Regions from separate parts of the Homo sapiens genome. Here region 1 is linked to region 2. The links come from fine-mapping of genetic effects on gene expression. A gene starts in region 2. The other region holds a variant in brackets. All regions are shown on one strand. Distances are from middle to middle. Region 1 has its middle 31 kb from the start of ACTL6A. Region 2 holds the start of GNB4 (G protein subunit beta 4).

Region 1 (8,340 bases), 81 kb after region 2:
TTGTGACAAAACCAGCTGGTTTAAAGAGGAGGATAGAAGATTGCTGATAAGTGCGTGTGTGTATGTATGTGTGTGTGTGTGTGTGTGTGTGTGTGTGTGTGTGTACATGTCACCAGTAGAAGAAAAGAATGCTAGATAAAATTGCAGAGTTATATAGAGAACAGAGAACTGACTAATGTCCCACAGAGCAATAAAATCGAAATCTTGGCCAGGCGCAGTGGCTCACACCCGTAATCCCAGCACTTTGGGAGGCTGAGGCAGGTGGATCATGAGGTCAGGCGATCGAGACCATCCTGGCTAACATGGTGAAACCCCGTCTCTACTAAAAATACAAAAAATTAGCCAGGCATGGTGACACGCACCTGTAGTCCCAGCTACTCAGGAGGCTGAGGCAGGAGAATGGCGTGAACCCAGGAGGCGGAGCTTGTGGTGAGCCGAGATCGTGCCACTGCACTCCAGCCTGGGCAACAGAGTGAGACTCCATCTCAAAAAAACAAAAAACAAAAAAACAAACAAAAACCTTTAAGATTCTTTTTTATTGGACATAAAGCATTTGACTCTCTATATGACAAAAAACCAATTGTGACTGATTAATTTTCTAAATGTCCACATCTAATTTTAAAGACAATCAACCCTAATCAATAAAGCATAGTAGATCAAACAAAATGACATCCCTAGGTGATGAGTGGTTTCAGGTGGACTTAGACAATGTTTGCTATGGCCTGAATGTCATCCCCTCAAAATTCTTGTTTTGAAATCACCAATGTGATGGTTATTAGGAGATAAAGTCTTTGGGAGGTGATTAGGTCACCAGGGGAAAGCCATCATGAATGGGATTAGTACGTTTATAAAAGAGGGTCCCAGGGAGCTGCTTTTCCCCTTCCACCCTGTAAGGATACTCTGAGCAGGTGTCTTCTAGATACTGAATCTGCCAGTGCCTTGATCTTGGACTTTCCAGCCTATAGAACTGTGAGAAATACATTTTTGTTGTTTATAAGTTACTCAGTCTAAGGTATTTTGTGATGGCAGGCATTAAGGACTGAGACAATGTTGTGTACAGCACTATCGAATGAAGCTTTCTGTGATGATGGAAATGTTCTATTGCACTGTCCAGTGATGTAGCCACAGGAACATGTAGCTGTTGAGCATTTGAAATGTGACTAGTATGCTGAGGAGTTGAATGTGAATTAATTTAAACTGAAGTAGTCACATGTGACTAGTGACTCCTTTGTTGAATGATGCACTGTATGACTTTGAAAGAGCACAGTCTGCAGAATAGCCAGGTGATTCATACCCACAGTAAATGTTGGGAAGAACTGTTGTACATGATACTGACAAAGGTAGCTGTAGACCACATTTTGAGAAATACTGCTCCACTCCCTGCTCTTACAGAATCCACTTTCAAAAAACGCAAACGTGGTATTATCAATCCCACTTAACGGGACAGAAGGTCAACTGCTGAAAGGCAATATAATTAGTCAGTGGTCATGCAGTTTGGTTATAAAACAAACTGAAAGCAGCTTGTCTAGATCCAGTTGATTGTAGCCCAGAATTGCCAGATCTTGCAACTTTTCAGAAAACTCCACAAATCTGAATTTTTATATAAGATATTCTCGGATTTTCAAAATCCTATGTAGACCAAACAAAATGAGTTTTGAATCCTGATATAGTCCGTAGGCTACCAGTTTCCAACCCCGGTACAAAGATTACCCTGCTGCTAGGCCAGACGCGGTGGCTCACACCTATAATCCCAGCACTTTGGGAGGCCGAGGCGGGCAAATCACCTGAGGTCAGGAGCTTGAGACCAGCCTGACCAACATGGAGAAACCCCATCTCTACTAAAAATACAAAATTAGCCGGGCATGGTGGCACGTGCCTGTAATCCCAGCTACTTGGGAGGCTGAGGCAGGAGAATCGCTTGAACCCGGGAGGCAGAAGTTGCAGTGAGCCGAGATTGCACCATTGCACTCTAGCCTGGGTGATGAGAGCAAAACTCTGTCTCAAAAAAAAAAAAAAAAAAAAAGATTACCCTGTTGTCTCTACAAGGAACTGAGGACAGGGGTTTGGCCTTTCCAGATCTTTCCAGGCAGAATCAAAGGCTTCTCGCAGCACTTGTTAGTATGGCCCGTTCAATGTTCAATGCTGTGAGAAGAAAATTTCTGTTATTTATAAATCACCCAATCTAAGGTATTTTATTACAGCAGCCCAAATGGACTGCTTGTCACATATCCCTAAAAAGTTATTTACATGCCGTCTTTCCAACTAGATTGCAAGTCCCTGGAGAAGAGGCACATACTCAGCTACCTATTGTCAGCATAACACCTGAAAAACAGAAAGCATTTAATATATCTTAGTTAAATGAGTGCGCATGAAAATTAGAAGCTTAAACCAGGCATAGCGGCTACACCTGTAATTCCAGCTCCTTGGGAGCCTGAGGCAGGAGGATTCCTTGAGCCCAGGAGTTCAGACCAGCTTGAGCAACACAGTGAGATTTCCCCCCAAAATAAATTAATCAATTGAAAGTTTTTTAAAAAAATCAGAAACTGGCCGGCCTCAGTGGCTCCCACCTTTAATTCCAGCACTTTGGGAAGCCAACAGGGGAGGATTGCTTGAGGCCAGAAGTTAAAGACCAGCCTGGGCAACATAGCAAGATCTTGTTTCTACTAAAAGTAAAAAAACAAATTAGCTGGGCATGGTGGTGCACGCCTGTAGTCCCAAATACTTGGAAGGCAGAAGCAAGAGGATTTCTTGAGCCCAGAAGTTTGAGGTTGCAGTGAGCTGTGATACACCACTGCACTCCAACCTTGTCTCTTAAAAGAAAAAAAAAATCAGAAGCTTAAATAGGATGGCGATGGGCCAAATGAATTTATTTCCTTGTTGTTGTGTTGTTGTTTTTAAACAACAAGATAGCAGATCCCATTTCTAAAATAAATAAATAAATAAACAGAAAAGTACAGAGTCTTGCTATGTTGCCCAGGCTGGCCTCCAACTCCTGTTCTCAAGCAATCCTCCCACCTCGGCCTCCCAAGTAACTGGGACTGTAAGCACCACATTACTCAACCTGGCTTGAGTGTAGGTTTAAAAACTGTGATGGGGTTCCTCCTTGATCCATAATGGTTTATTTATTGCTGCCACAAATAAAAACATACATGTTAAATGTGTACAGTTATAAAACTTACCCTTATTTATTTATTTATCTATCTTTAAGACAGAGTCTTACTCTGTTGCCCAGGCTGGAGTGCAGTGACGCAATCATGGCTCACTGAAGCTTTGAACCCCCTGGACTCAGGTGATCCTCCCACCACAGTAGCTGGGACTACAGGTATGCACCACCAGGTCTGGCTAATTTTTTTATTTTTAATTTTTTTGTAGAGATGGGGGTCTCCCTATGTTGCCCAGATTAGTCTTGAACTCCTGGGCTCAAAAGATCCTCCTGCCTTAGCCTCCCAAAGTGTTAGGATTACAGGCACGGGCCACCACACCTAGCCAAACTTACCTTTTATTTATATAAAATATACAACTCATACAATGTAACATCTGTCCAGGTAGAAATATGTCAATTAACCATACCGATTGATAGGCCTAAGTATTATGTCTTAATTAATTTTTAAAAATCACATACTTTCCAAGGAACATGATATATTCCTATTTTGAACAGATCCAAATTTTTCCCATGCTGACTTTTGAGGTAAACTAGGTCTTTCTACTGACTTTACCAAAATTATTTTTAAAATATACCTAGCACCTTCTCACATTTTTTCCCTGGGGGCAGAGGGAAACTGTGGTGTAAAGAGAAGTCTACATAGTTTTTTTTTTTTTTAAACAAATCCAGTCATTAAAAGCGGAGCTGCAGAGACAAGAGTAGGGAGCTCTTTTCTGTACTGTGAAGTTTGGTTCTCTCTGAAGTAGAATTTCATCAAACTGAATGTGTTATGCATTTTAAATATATTTGAGGCTAAAAGGGAAAAATAAGTATGTTGTTCTTTCTTGTAGGCTTGCCTTTAGATGTGTCTGGTCACTACCTTGGAAACCCTTACAAATGGCAACTGACGTCAAGAAAAGAGAAAAAACACTGCTGAGGGCACAC[G/A]GTGCATGCATTATAGATGATTCTGAGGACTGAGGCTTGTGCCAGCACTAAGTGGCTTTAAGATGAGCATAAGCAATCTTCCATTTCACAAACATTCTTCATAAACTGTTTAAGGACTTGGAGGTCTGAAAAAACTTCTTTGAGTTTTTAATTTAAGCAAGGTGACGATTCAGTTATTAGCTTAAGTGTTCTGTCCCACCATAACTGCCAAGGTCATTAAAATGTTTGGCACTAATATATCTCAAAAACAAGTGGAAGCTGCACCCTTGTTTTGAATATAGTTTATCCCAATATTTTATTATGAAAAAATTCAGACAGATAGCAAGTTGAAAGAATTTTACAGTGAACAACCAATATACTCATCACCCAGATTCTTCTATTTTCAATATACTCAACTGGCCTTATCATATGTCTGTCTGTCTACCATGCATCCATCCATCCATCCATCTATTCTTTTATCTATATCTTAATCCATCCACTTTTGATGCATTTCAAATAAATTGCAGACATGAGTTCACTTCCCCTGTAAATATTTCAGCATGCATATCACAACTAGAATTCAGTATTTGTTTATAGGTTTTCTTTTGTTATAACATCTACATATAACATCTACAATGAAATGTACAAATCTTAAGTGTACATTTGCTGTTTTGACAAATGGTTAGTCTCAGAGTGTAGTGGGCTAGTTTTTCTAGATTTATGGTCCTTTTTTTTCTCTAGGGTCTCCACACATATTATCTTTTTCTTTTTTGAAAGGGAGTTTACTTTCTAGAGGTGTTTTAGGTTCATAGCAAAACTGAACAGAAAGTACATAGAATTCCCATACGCCCCCTGCACCAACACCATGTACAGCCTCCCCCACTGTCAACATCCCACACCAGAGTGGTATATTTGTTACAACCACTGAACCTACATTGATATAGTCCATAGCTTACATTAGTGTTCAGTCTTGGTGTTTTACATGCTATGGGTTTGAACAAATATATAATGATATACATCCACCATGGTAGAATCCTACAGAAGTTTCATTGCCTTAAAATTCTCAGTGCTTTGCCATTCATCCCTCCTTCCCCTGGTAACCACTGATCTTTACTGTCTCAATAGTTTTACCTTTTCTAGAGATCATATAGTTGAAATCAAACCTTCCCCTGGGAACCACTGATCTTTTTATTGTCTCAATAGTTTTACCTTTTCCAGAGATCACATAGTTGAAATCGTAGTTGAATTTGCATTTAACAAGTTCGGAACACTCTTTTTTTAGAATCTAAGAAGTGACGTTTCCGAACCTATTGACCTTTTATAAGAAAATATGAATATCCAGCCCTAAAAACTAGAAACAAGCTATCTGTAAAAACGCTTTGTGATGTGTTGCTTTATATCACAGAATTGAACCTGTGATATAGGTTTTCAGATTGACTTCTTTCACTTAGCAATAGGCATTTAAAGCTTTTCCCATGTTTTTCATGGTTTGATAGCTCATTTCTTTGTAGCACTTTTTTGCATTTCTTTTTAGCATCCCCTTATCTGGACGTCCTACAGTTTATTTATTCAGCTACTGAAGGACATCTTGATTGCTTCCAATTTTTGGCAATTGTGAATAAAGCTGCTATAAACATTCATGTGCAGGTTTTTATGTGGACGTAAGGTTTCAACTCATTTGAGTAAATACCAAGGAACATGATTGCTGGATTATATGGTAACAGTAGGTTTAGTTTTGTAAGAAGTTGCCAAACGCTCTTCCAAAGTAGCTGTACCATTTTTCATTCCCGCCAACAATGAATGAGAGCTCCTGTTGTTCCACATCCTTGTCAGCCTTTGGAGATGTCAGTGTTTTGGATTTTGGCCATTCCAATAGCTGTGTGGTAGAATCTCATCATTGTTGTTTTAATTTGCATTTCTCTAATGACATATGATATTGAGCTCCTTTCCATATACTTACTTGCCTCTGTATATCTTCTTTGGTGAGGTATCTGTTCAGGTCTCTTGCCATTTTTTAATCAGGTTATTTGTTTTCTTATTATTGAGTTTTAAGAGTTCTTTGTATTTTAGTTAATAGTCCTTTATCACATATATCTATTGCAAATATTTTCTACCAGTCTGAAGCTTGTCTTCTCATCCTCTTGACAGTGTGTTTTAAAAAGTTATATTCATTTTCCATTAAACAATTAGTCTGTTCAACTGAGGGGAAAACTTGGTAGAAAAGAAGATTCCTGCCATCATGGAACCTACATTTTAATGGAAGAAACAACAATAAACAAATACATGAATAAACATATAATAGGTATTTACGTGGAGTTACTTGCTGGAAAGAAAATTAAAACAAGGTAAGGGGTTAAAGAGTAGCTGGAGAAGGATCACTCTGGCTGCTGTGTAGACCTCATGGGGCCAAGGTAGAATAGACCATACTGGGGGCAAGGGTAGAAGTGGGAGTTAGGAAGTTACTGCCCTCATACAAGCAAGAGACAATGTGGGCATGGACTAGGGTGGAAGCAGTGGGTGTGGTGAGAAATATCCAGATTCTGGACATTTCTTAAAAGTGGCACTGGCATAACTTGCTCATGGGTTGGTTATAAGAGAAAGGATTCGGGGATGGAAGGTAGGTTTGGGCCTAAACAACTGTGTGAATGGTGGTGAAATTGGGAGGAGAGTGTGGAAGGAAGGGGAGGCGGACCAGGCTGGGGGATGGGACAATCAAGTGAATATTCAGGAGGAGATGGCCAAGCAGGCCATTGGGATTCCACCGGAAAGGTTAGGGCTGGAAATACACAAATGAGGGAGTCTTCAGCATATCGAAAGTGTGCTGCATGTCTTTGCAGCCTTCCTTATTCTCACTCCATGCCTCTCCACTCTGCTGTTTACCTTCACACAGCCTGACCTGCATGGATTAAGTCAATGAACTCCAACCCCTGGTTTCCAGCTGGATTCAGCCAGCCTTGGGGCAGATCCGAAAAAAAGAGCAAGTGAGGTGGTGTATTCCCCCAGCTCCCTCGCTGAAGATTGCCTGAGTCCCTTGATCAAAGCCACAGCTCCCATCACACAGACCTCCCCACAGCTGTTCCTCTCTAGGTGCAGTCACTGCTCCTGATTGAATGAGGTTGGATGAGATCACTTAGGGAGTGTGAATAGATAGAAAAGAAGAGCTTTGAGGACTGCCTCCTAGGACACTGTAATATTTAGAGGCCAGAAAGAAGAGGCGGGCTCTGCCAAAGGGGAGTCTGTGTGGCAGAAGAAAAACAGGAACATGTGGTGTCTGGGTAGAGGCTCAGTGAAGGTAGCGTTCTTCAAGAGACAGTTCTCCTGGCCGAGCACAGTAGCTCACACCTGTAATCCCATCACTTTGGGAGGCTGAGGCAGTTGGATCACTTGAGGTCAGGAGTTCGAGACCAGCCTGGCCAACATGGTGAAATGCTGACTCTACCAAAAATACAAAAATTAGCCAGGCGTGGTGGTGCGCCTGTAATCCCAGCTACTCGGGAGGCTGAGGCAGGAGAATCGCTTGAACCCGGGAGGCCGAGGTTGCAGTGAGCCAAGATGGCACCACTGTATTCCAGCCTCAGCAACAGAGGGAAACTGTGTCAACAAACAAACAAAAGAAGCTTAGTTCTCCTAGAGTGTCCTAAGCTACTATTTTCCTGAAACTCTCAGGACCCTTTTTGTTCTCCCTCATCATTCTTGACTTTTCTTCTCTCAGGGTTGTGGTACTTGCTTTGCAATTAAGCTTTAGACACTCCAGATATGCTGATATGTTGTGTCGGACCTCAAGGGGGGTGATGGTTTGAGCTCTGGTCAGAGGCTCTCAGTAGCTGTGCATATCTATAGATGCATCAGGTATGGGAAGGAGAGGGAAACAGGGAGAAACCACCAGGAAATATACACAATTTTTTTTTTTTTTTTTGCGACGGAATCTCACTCTGTCACCCAGCTGGAGTGCAGTGGCATGATCTTGGCTCACTGCAACTCCGTCTCCCAGGTTCAAGCGATTCTCCTGCCTCAGCCTCCCAAGTAGCTGGGACTACAGGTGAGTGCCACCACGCCCAGCTAATTTTTGTATTTTTAGTAGAGACGGGGTTTCACCATGTTGGCCAGGCTGGTCTCGAACTCCTGACCTCAGGTGATCCACCCACCTCGGCCTCCCAAAGTGCTGGGATTATAGGTGTGAGCCACTGCACCCGGCCAGACAATTATTTTTAAATATCTCTCGGGTACTATGCTGTGAATATGATGAAAGCAGGAACTATTTCATATTCACATCG
Region 2 (8,340 bases):
GCACTAACGCTGTAAGATTCTCTGGAAACCGTCTTCTCCATTTGAAACGGCATTAGCTAAGATACAACAAATATTAATTCATGCATTCATTCCTTCATTCAACAAATATCTGAGTCCCGACCATGTGCCAAACATATTCTAGGCTCTAGAGATTCGGTAGTAAACAAAACAAAACTTCCTATTGCCACAGTGCTTTGTTCTGTATCTGTCTAGGAGATAAATAATACAGCACATCAATAACATAATTTTAAGTACAGATAAGTCGTATGCAAGAAAAAAACTGCAAGAACTTCAAGAGGTTAGAGGGTGACGAGGAAGGCTATTTTCAAATAAATTAAGTAAGGACTGAATGAAATGAGAGGATGAGCTATGTCTTCATTGGGAGAAAGCATTACAGGCAGAACAGCAAGCAAAGGCCCAGGCAGAAACTAACCTGACATGCTGGACCTACAGCAGTGACGATGGCGAGGCTGGAAGAGAGTGAGCAGGGCAGAGAGCAGCAGATGAGACTAGAAGGGTGTGCCAGAGCCCAGTCACCGTCTCTTGATCATGGTATTAAAAAAAAAAAAAAAAAAAATCCTGATTTTTTTTCAGATGGGGTCTCACTCTATTGCCCAGGCACAAACATGGCTCACTGCAACTTTGACCTCCTGGACTCAAGCAATCCTCCCGCCTCAGACTCCCATGTAGCTGAGACCACAGATATGCACCACCACGCCTGGCTAAAACGTTTTTATTTTATCTAACAATAATGGGTTCTGACGACTGAGATATAACCTGCTTTGATTTACCTCTTTTAAAGTTCATGCTGGCTGGTGGGAGACAGAGAGTGGAAGCTGACAAACCAGTTGGGGGGCTCCTGCAGTCATCCAGGCCAGGGAAGAATACAGTTTGACACCAGGGTGGTGGTGGTGGCAGTGCAGGTGATAGGAATGGTCAAATTAACTTTTTAAAAAAGATGGTCCAATCTGCAGTGATTTTGAAGGTAGAGCCCATAATACTTGCTGTTGAAGGAATAGATTTAGAATGAGTGAAATGGGGAATTAGAATTTTTAGCCTCAGCAACTGGTGGATGGTGGTACCATTGACTGAGATGGAGAAGAATGAGAAACTGTAGCCAATGAGGCAGGATGAAAATCAGAAAGAGCGGTGTCCCAGAAGCCAAGGGGAAACGACATTTTGATAGGGAAGGAGTTATCTGTTGCCTGTGTCAAATGTGGCTGAAGATCCAGTTTGGCAAGACTGACATCCCTGGTGACCTGGAGAAGAATTGTTTCATGGAGTAGGAGGGATAATGTGTCTCTGAAGCGGGTTCAGAAGAAGATGGCAGATAAGGAGTAGAGACAGCCTACATGGAGTCCCTTCAAAGATTTTCTTTTTGAAGCAAAGCTGCATTGTTATTGTTTGAAGTTTTATTTTTAACTTTTCATTTCTCCCAGTGCTGGGATTACAGGTGTGAGCCACCGCGCCTGGCCTGTTTCATGTTTTCATTTCTCTTCTTCCACGTTGGAAACCCTAGTTCCCAAAATATCAATGAATTTACTCATTTGCTCAATCCTATAATGCACACAAAATAGTTTCAGAATTGCTACACCTCTACCATACAAATAATAGCCTACTACACAGAGTTCAAGATTATTTTTTCAGTTCTTTAATCTTTAATCCTGTGCTCAAAACTTACTTGGTTTTTTTTTTTTTCTTCTGGGAGTTTATATTATTCACATAAATACACGGTTTGTTGTTGCTGTTTGTATTGTTTTGGAGTCCCACTCTCCACATCTTGTTAATTTTATTTTTGAACATAAAAAAGACTAACAGTTTCCAAAACTCAAAACTATGCAAAAAAGTACATTCAGAACAAGGCCATTCCTTCTGTTGTTCCCATTTACTCAGTTCCTACCCGGTGCCTGTAGGTAACTAATTAGTTTCTGGTTCTCACTCCTGTATTTATTTTTTGTTCTGTCAAAAAACTACGCTTCCTCAAGGTGAGGTAGAGAAATGAGGCAGGGCCAGACGCCGTGGCTCACGCCTGTAATCCTAACACTTTGGGAGGCTGAGGTGGGTGGACTGCTTGAGCCCAAGAGTTCAAGACCAGCCTGGGCAACACAGCGAGATCCCGCTTCTATTTATAAAAATAAATAAATAAAAAGAAATGAGGCAGTCACTGAAGCAGAACACTGGATCAAGAAACCATTTTATTTTAAAATGGCAGACTGTACAATAATGTAAATGATTCTGTAGTAACTGACAAATTGAAGGTGCAGGAGAGAGTATGATAAATTGCAGAGGGAAATATCCATCAAAATATCCTCTAGTTTAATTTGAGGGATATCAAAGGGTTCTCATATCCCAAAATTGACCGCAATCCTGTTTGTAACCTTCCAAATTAGTTATAACTCTATCTCTAGAGAACCCACATTAAAATGGAGTTACTGTTTTATCAAGATAATTAAGCCATCACTACCTATTAATATCAATAGGATACACTGTGCCCTGGCAAAAGGGAGGTTTTGAACTTGGAACAAGACATTTAACTAGGAGTAGAGTGGTGAGAAGAGAATGGCTGATGTGAGAAGCTGTATAAAAACATGGGACAGACAATAATGATCATGCTGGAAAAACAAACATGCTTCTGGCATGTCTTGGATATTTTACACACATGCTAATGAGTAATTGAGGGTCACTCCTCATGCCCTCGAACTAAGTTAATATGGCTCAGGGGAAAGAACATGGACTTTGGAAACAGAGGGGTCTTGCTTCGAATCCCAGTTGAGTTACCTAACACCTACATGACCACTGCCAAGTTACTTAAAACCTCACAGACAATTTCCTTACCTGTGGAAGTAGATAATGGTGTTACTGTGAGATATAAGTAGAATAACTTACAGCACTGCCCCAGCCCAGAAGAGATATTTTAATAAATAAGTCCATAACAGACGCAGATTAAAATAGTCAGCAAGGTAAAGAAACTGATGATACAGCCAGCTGACTTCAATAACATGCCTAAGAGAAATCACACCATCTCAGGCAGTATTTGGTAAGGCCAGAAGAATGTCCAACACTTAGTTCCAATTCTTAATTTTCAAATTGCCCCAGAGTCTATTTTTAAAGTGTAAAAGTATGTGCTGACATACTTACATGCCAATTGTTTAAAAGAAACAATTCTACAGGTTAACAAAGGCCAAAGACTCGGAATAACTTCCTAAATAATGTTTATGGGCCCACAAAGAGTTGAACCAACCTAAAATATCACAAGCTGTATCAATCAGTTTTATAAATGTATATACAGAGGGTTGACAACGTTCAATAAGATGATATTTTAAAAGTTTCTATTTCAGTTTCAAATTCATCTACAAACCAAAATGCAACATGGAAAATCTTAAAATGTCTTTAAGCCACATACTGAAATATACAGTAAATTTTCAGAGCCTAGGATCAGTAGTAAACCAAAAGCCCCAAACTGAAGAGTATTAAAATGAACAATGGCAGAGACTCGAAGCACACAATTTTGAATGCACCTAATCAGCCGTCCTCCTCTCCGACTAGAAATAACTTCCCTCCCATCTTAAATTAAGTAGCGTGTGTTCTGTCTCTGTCCTAGAAGATGTACTTAATGGTCATAAACTCTGTTTGCAACACTGAGACGGACTCATAATAAAAGTTCTAATCAACAATTAAATTTTGAACGTTTTAAGAAAACTTCCCGCTAAGCCACACGCCAAGCTACTTTGTCGGTGGCTGAGAGGGAGAAAGATGCATCCTTATCCTTTATGGAAAGAGAAAGGGAAGGAGTGGGAGAAAAGGGAACACAAGGAGACGAAAAATAACAAAGTATTGCTTGTATAAACAAATGAAAGCCTGGTTTCAAACTTTTGAAAATTCAACGTTCCCTTAGCGAATAGCAATACATATCAAAGTATATGGCAATCATCTGTGTTCTGAAGCAGAAAAAGGTGGAGAGAAAAGCAAAACACTTTTTATTGTACTGAACTCACAAGTATTCAAAATTCATCAATCCCCTCCCATCCCCAAACTCTGGACATTATATCATTTCCAAAATAAATCTGAAACAAAACCATTGGACTAATTTTGGACTCAGCGTAGAACTTTTATGAGTCTTCCAAGCACTCTCCACCCAACAGCCCTGCTGGGCAGTCCCGAATACCCGTTATTTTGGGGGCACGCACGGGCTCGTGCTCTGAGTTCCTGGAAGGAGGCCTCGGGGAGTGACGAGAAACCAGGGGGGTCTGCAGGACTTGGACCGCCGACCGTTCCTCGCTCCCCGGGGCGAGCGGTCTGGACCGCCCGGGAAGTGCCTGCGCCGGCGGTCGTGGGGCCAGTTCCCGCGTGGCAGCTGGGCGCGACACAGGCGCGCCCTCCTCGTCCCTCCCGGGCAGCGTCGGCCGCCCGAGCCCGGGGAGACCCGCCCCGCCCCGCGCCGTCACCCGGGCCCCGTTCCGCAGGGGTGGCTCGCGGCGCCCCACGTCCCTGCGAGAAGCCCGGGATCGCTTCGCGGGGCGCACCGACGAGCCGCCGCTCGCGAGCTCGCCGCCTACCTGGAGGGAGCTCAGGCCCGCGTCGACCGCGCGCTGCCGGTGTCCGCTGGGCGCTCAGCAGCCCCTGGAGCGCGGAGCCGGCGTGGAGAGCGCAGCTCACAGCCGAGACCAGAGCCGCCGGCCACACCCAGTCCCGCACCTCCCAGCAGCCAACTCCGCGGCGCGCCGGAGCCGGGGCGGGGACGTGGCTGGAGGCGCGAGGCGCGAGGCACGAGGCGCGCGGGCCCGGCGGGGACGTGCCGGGGACGCGCAGACCCTCGGAGCGCGCGCAGCCCGGGCGGGGGGCGAAGGGAGCGGGCGCCGCGCGCAGCTTCTGCTTCCTATTTTCTCTCTCGTTTCCTGCCAGAAGGAGAAGAAAAACATTCATTCCCGGGCAGTTTCGTTTTCTTGTTGGTGTGGCGCCGGGGCACGCTGCTAAGTAGCGCCCGTCTAAGTGGCGTGGCCAGTTTCCTTTCCGGCGCTGACAGGCGCCAGTTTGCTTGTTAGCAGGATCGAAGGGCAGAGCTAGAAGACCCCAAAGGCCCCATTTAGGTTTCCCATTCTGGAATTCTAAATGTCAGAAAGTAAACTGAAGCCCAGAGTTGCACAACCTTGCGTTGCAGTCCCCGCTCTTCCATCACTAGTTGTAGGACCGTGTACCGTCTCGGGCCTAAGTTTCGTCATCGCCAAAATAAAGATACTGATACCTGCCTCATAAAGGTGCTAAGCATATTAAATGAAGTGATGTTTGCACGAAGCCTGCCTCCAAATAAATGGCCAATACTTGGAAGTTATTGTTCCTATTGTCATTGATAAAACTGGAAGGCCTTCCAGATATCCCTGCCAAGTCGCTCTTCTCTGCATGAGTTAAACACCACATGCATCTCAATCGAGTTTTTTTTTTTTTCACATTTATCTGGGTGTTTTATGTTTAAAATGTCATAAAATAAATGCATCTATCCAATTTGCTTCCTCTGAAGTCAGTACCGCCTGGGAGCATTTTTCCTCTCCCCACCCCCATTTTTCTTCTGAGTTAATTCCAGTTTGACAGACTGTTGCTATAGCATTCCTTCTCTGACGTCAAACAATTTAAAGAAACAGCCCTGGGTAGCGAAAACTGCAGAGGAGTTCTTTGTGGAGTTTCTGTGCCGGAGAAATGTTCGAACAATATCATCAGATAACTTTAACAACCCCTCAGCCTTCCAATCCTCCTTCTGTAGCTGCTTCCCACTATCACCTGGAATAAATCTATTAGTCCCTTGAAAGAGGTGATGCCATGATAAACACACCCTGTTTGTGACTGTGGGGAAAATGTGACCGTTTTGTATAAAAGCCAGGCCGTGACAAAAATAGAAGCAGCTGTTTCTATTTTCTTTATCCACAGATAAAGAAACTGTGGATAATTTTTCCCCCAAAATTTTCATTTTTACTAATATTAGGAGCATTTTTCCATTAAGAAGAAAGAAATGCCAAATATTCTGCATATCAAAGTGTCAGAAGAGCTCGTTGGGACATGAGTGTTTTGCATCTGTAACTATTTATGTTTTAATGATTAAATCCTGAGTTTTATGATTGTCGTTTTTCGGAGGAAGCAAAGGGAAATTGTTAAAGAGTGCCTATTACGGACCATGCTCTCTGCTTTCTTATACTGTACTTAATCCTCATAATTACCTTGAAGTGTGAATTTTATCCCCATTTTACAGATAAGCAAACTGATGCCCTGGTAAGATTAATTTATCGGAGTCACGAAGGTATTGGTAGAGCCCTGCATGACATCAGATTGGATCAACTCCAAAGCCCACATTCTTTCTTTTTTTTGTTTGTTTTTTTGTTTTGAGACGGAGTCACTGTGCAGTGATGTGATGTCAGCTCACTGCAACCTCCACCTCCAGGATTCAAGCGATTCTCGTGTCTCAGCCTCCCAAGTCTGGGATTACAGGCACAAGCCACCACGCCCGGCTGATTTTTTGTATTTTTAGTAGACACGGGGTTTCACCGTGTTGACCAGGCTGGTCTCAATCTGCTGACCTCAGGTGATCCGCCCACCTCGGCCTCCCAAAGTGCTGGAATTACAGGCGTGAGCCACCGATCCCGGCCCCATATTCTTTCTTTAGATTCTTTTCTGCCTTGTTCCTGTGCACTAGCATTTACCAGATGTTATAAAGCTTTGAGAGCTGGTTGTTGGGTTAAGATTATTTGTTGAAAAACAAGTTGCTGGTATTTAGGAAAACACAGTGGGAAGCAATGAGATAGTCTATTCCAGAAAAGATGAGGGGAAATATAAATGAACAGCTCCTAAACATAAAATACAAAACCTGAAAAGATGTAACAAGAATTTGACTGTCTTTTAAAGAGTTTAAAAGAATGATATCGTCAATCTTCCTGAAAATTTAATGTAGACAAAGAAATTACTAGAAGAATAAAGTCCAAGTACAGAAAAAGGAAAGTTTAATTATTATCCAAACGAATCTACTTCCAAGAATATTGTATTTCTGTTTTGCCATACCTGCTCCATATTGTTCTGGAAAAAAAAAAAAAAACTTACTTGTTAAAGGACAAGCCTATACTGAAAATCTGAAAGTGGAGCTGATTAAAAGAATTTTGTCATCAGGAATGATTTCATAAGAGCACACTAATGCATCTAAGTGATCCAGCAATTCATGATTTTTCCAATGATAATGAAATCCACGAAGAACAAAAGAGAGAGACTGGGAAGGGAGGCAGAGAGAAAGGTGAAGGGGTATGCTATTAACATTTCTGATGCCTGCTGGTTTGTGTAGACAATTGTAGAGATGTATCCTACTTCTGAGGATTAAGCCCCATGATCTTTTGTTTGGGTGCCACTGGCTGATAATTAGATTTCTAACTCATTAGGCCCATGTTCTCAAATCCTACTCTATTAAGAGAGCATAGTGGGGTCCCTACTAGAGAACCTTTGAAGACAAAATCCTTGTCCGTTTCATCTTTGTGTCTGCCATAGTGTTTAACAGAGCACCTTGCATTTGCTAGGTACTCCACGAACAAATAAATGAGTGAATGCACTTGGCTGCTTGTTTTATGCAAATAACCTGCATACCTCACCCCATCCCACACGCTAGTCAGAATCATAGGAGAGGAGAAAGTGGTCATTGCTTTTCTAGGAGTTTAGTTACAGTTTCTTTTGCAGGGTGTTTTGCTTCACTATGATCAAGTTCAGAGAAGCTCTGCTCTTGGTCCTACATTGGATGAATCTGAATGCTGTACTCAGTGAGCTACCCTGTAATCCATAGTGCCATAGGTTTGTATATCCTGCTTTTAAGTTTTACCCTAGAAATGGTCTATATTTTTTTCTGAGCCTACCTTGCTCTCAGACGATGCCAAGCACACCGTGAAGAACACAGCTATTAAAGTGTACAATATTTCAGTACCGCCCTGTATGTGTTGTATGCATTCCAATTCTATTGTGTTTGAAATGAGGCCAAATTATATACATACAACATCACAACTACCGTAACAGATTTTATTTCACCCACAACAAAATAAGTTATAAAATATTAAATGGAAATTATCTAACAGGATCTACAGCACAGTTTCCCAAGGACATGAGAAGCAATTCCCTAGTAGATTCTGTAAGAAGTCAGTCTATGTGTGGTTTCAGACAGACATCCTTGATACAGAGTAGTCATGCCTAAAGCCTTCCCTCTTGCTCACACACAATGCATTTTCCATATCAAAGTACAGTTTGTACTTTGAGTCACCTTTGCTGTACTCCTCTGACACTGGTGGTACAAATCAGTTATAGCTTTTGTTTATTTCCACTCAGGTT

What was found.
Region 1: its variant is fine-mapped to the expression of GNB4 in caudate (GTEx, PIP 0.95).

The regions. Positions count from the first base shown.
Region 1 is chr3:179,527,724-179,536,063 of GRCh38, forward strand. It overlaps a transcript of GNB4 not described here. Among named protein-coding and RNA genes, the nearest start is that of ACTL6A, 31 kb to the right of the region's middle. The variant G/A (reference allele first, on the strand shown) is at 4,088.
Region 2 is chr3:179,446,790-179,455,129 of GRCh38, forward strand. GNB4 (G protein subunit beta 4) reads right to left here and starts at 4,681. Exons shown (of 10, transcript NM_021629.4): 1 at 4,557-4,681. It also overlaps the pseudogene RPL29P34. RefSeq lists silencers at 4,252-4,661, 4,702-4,851.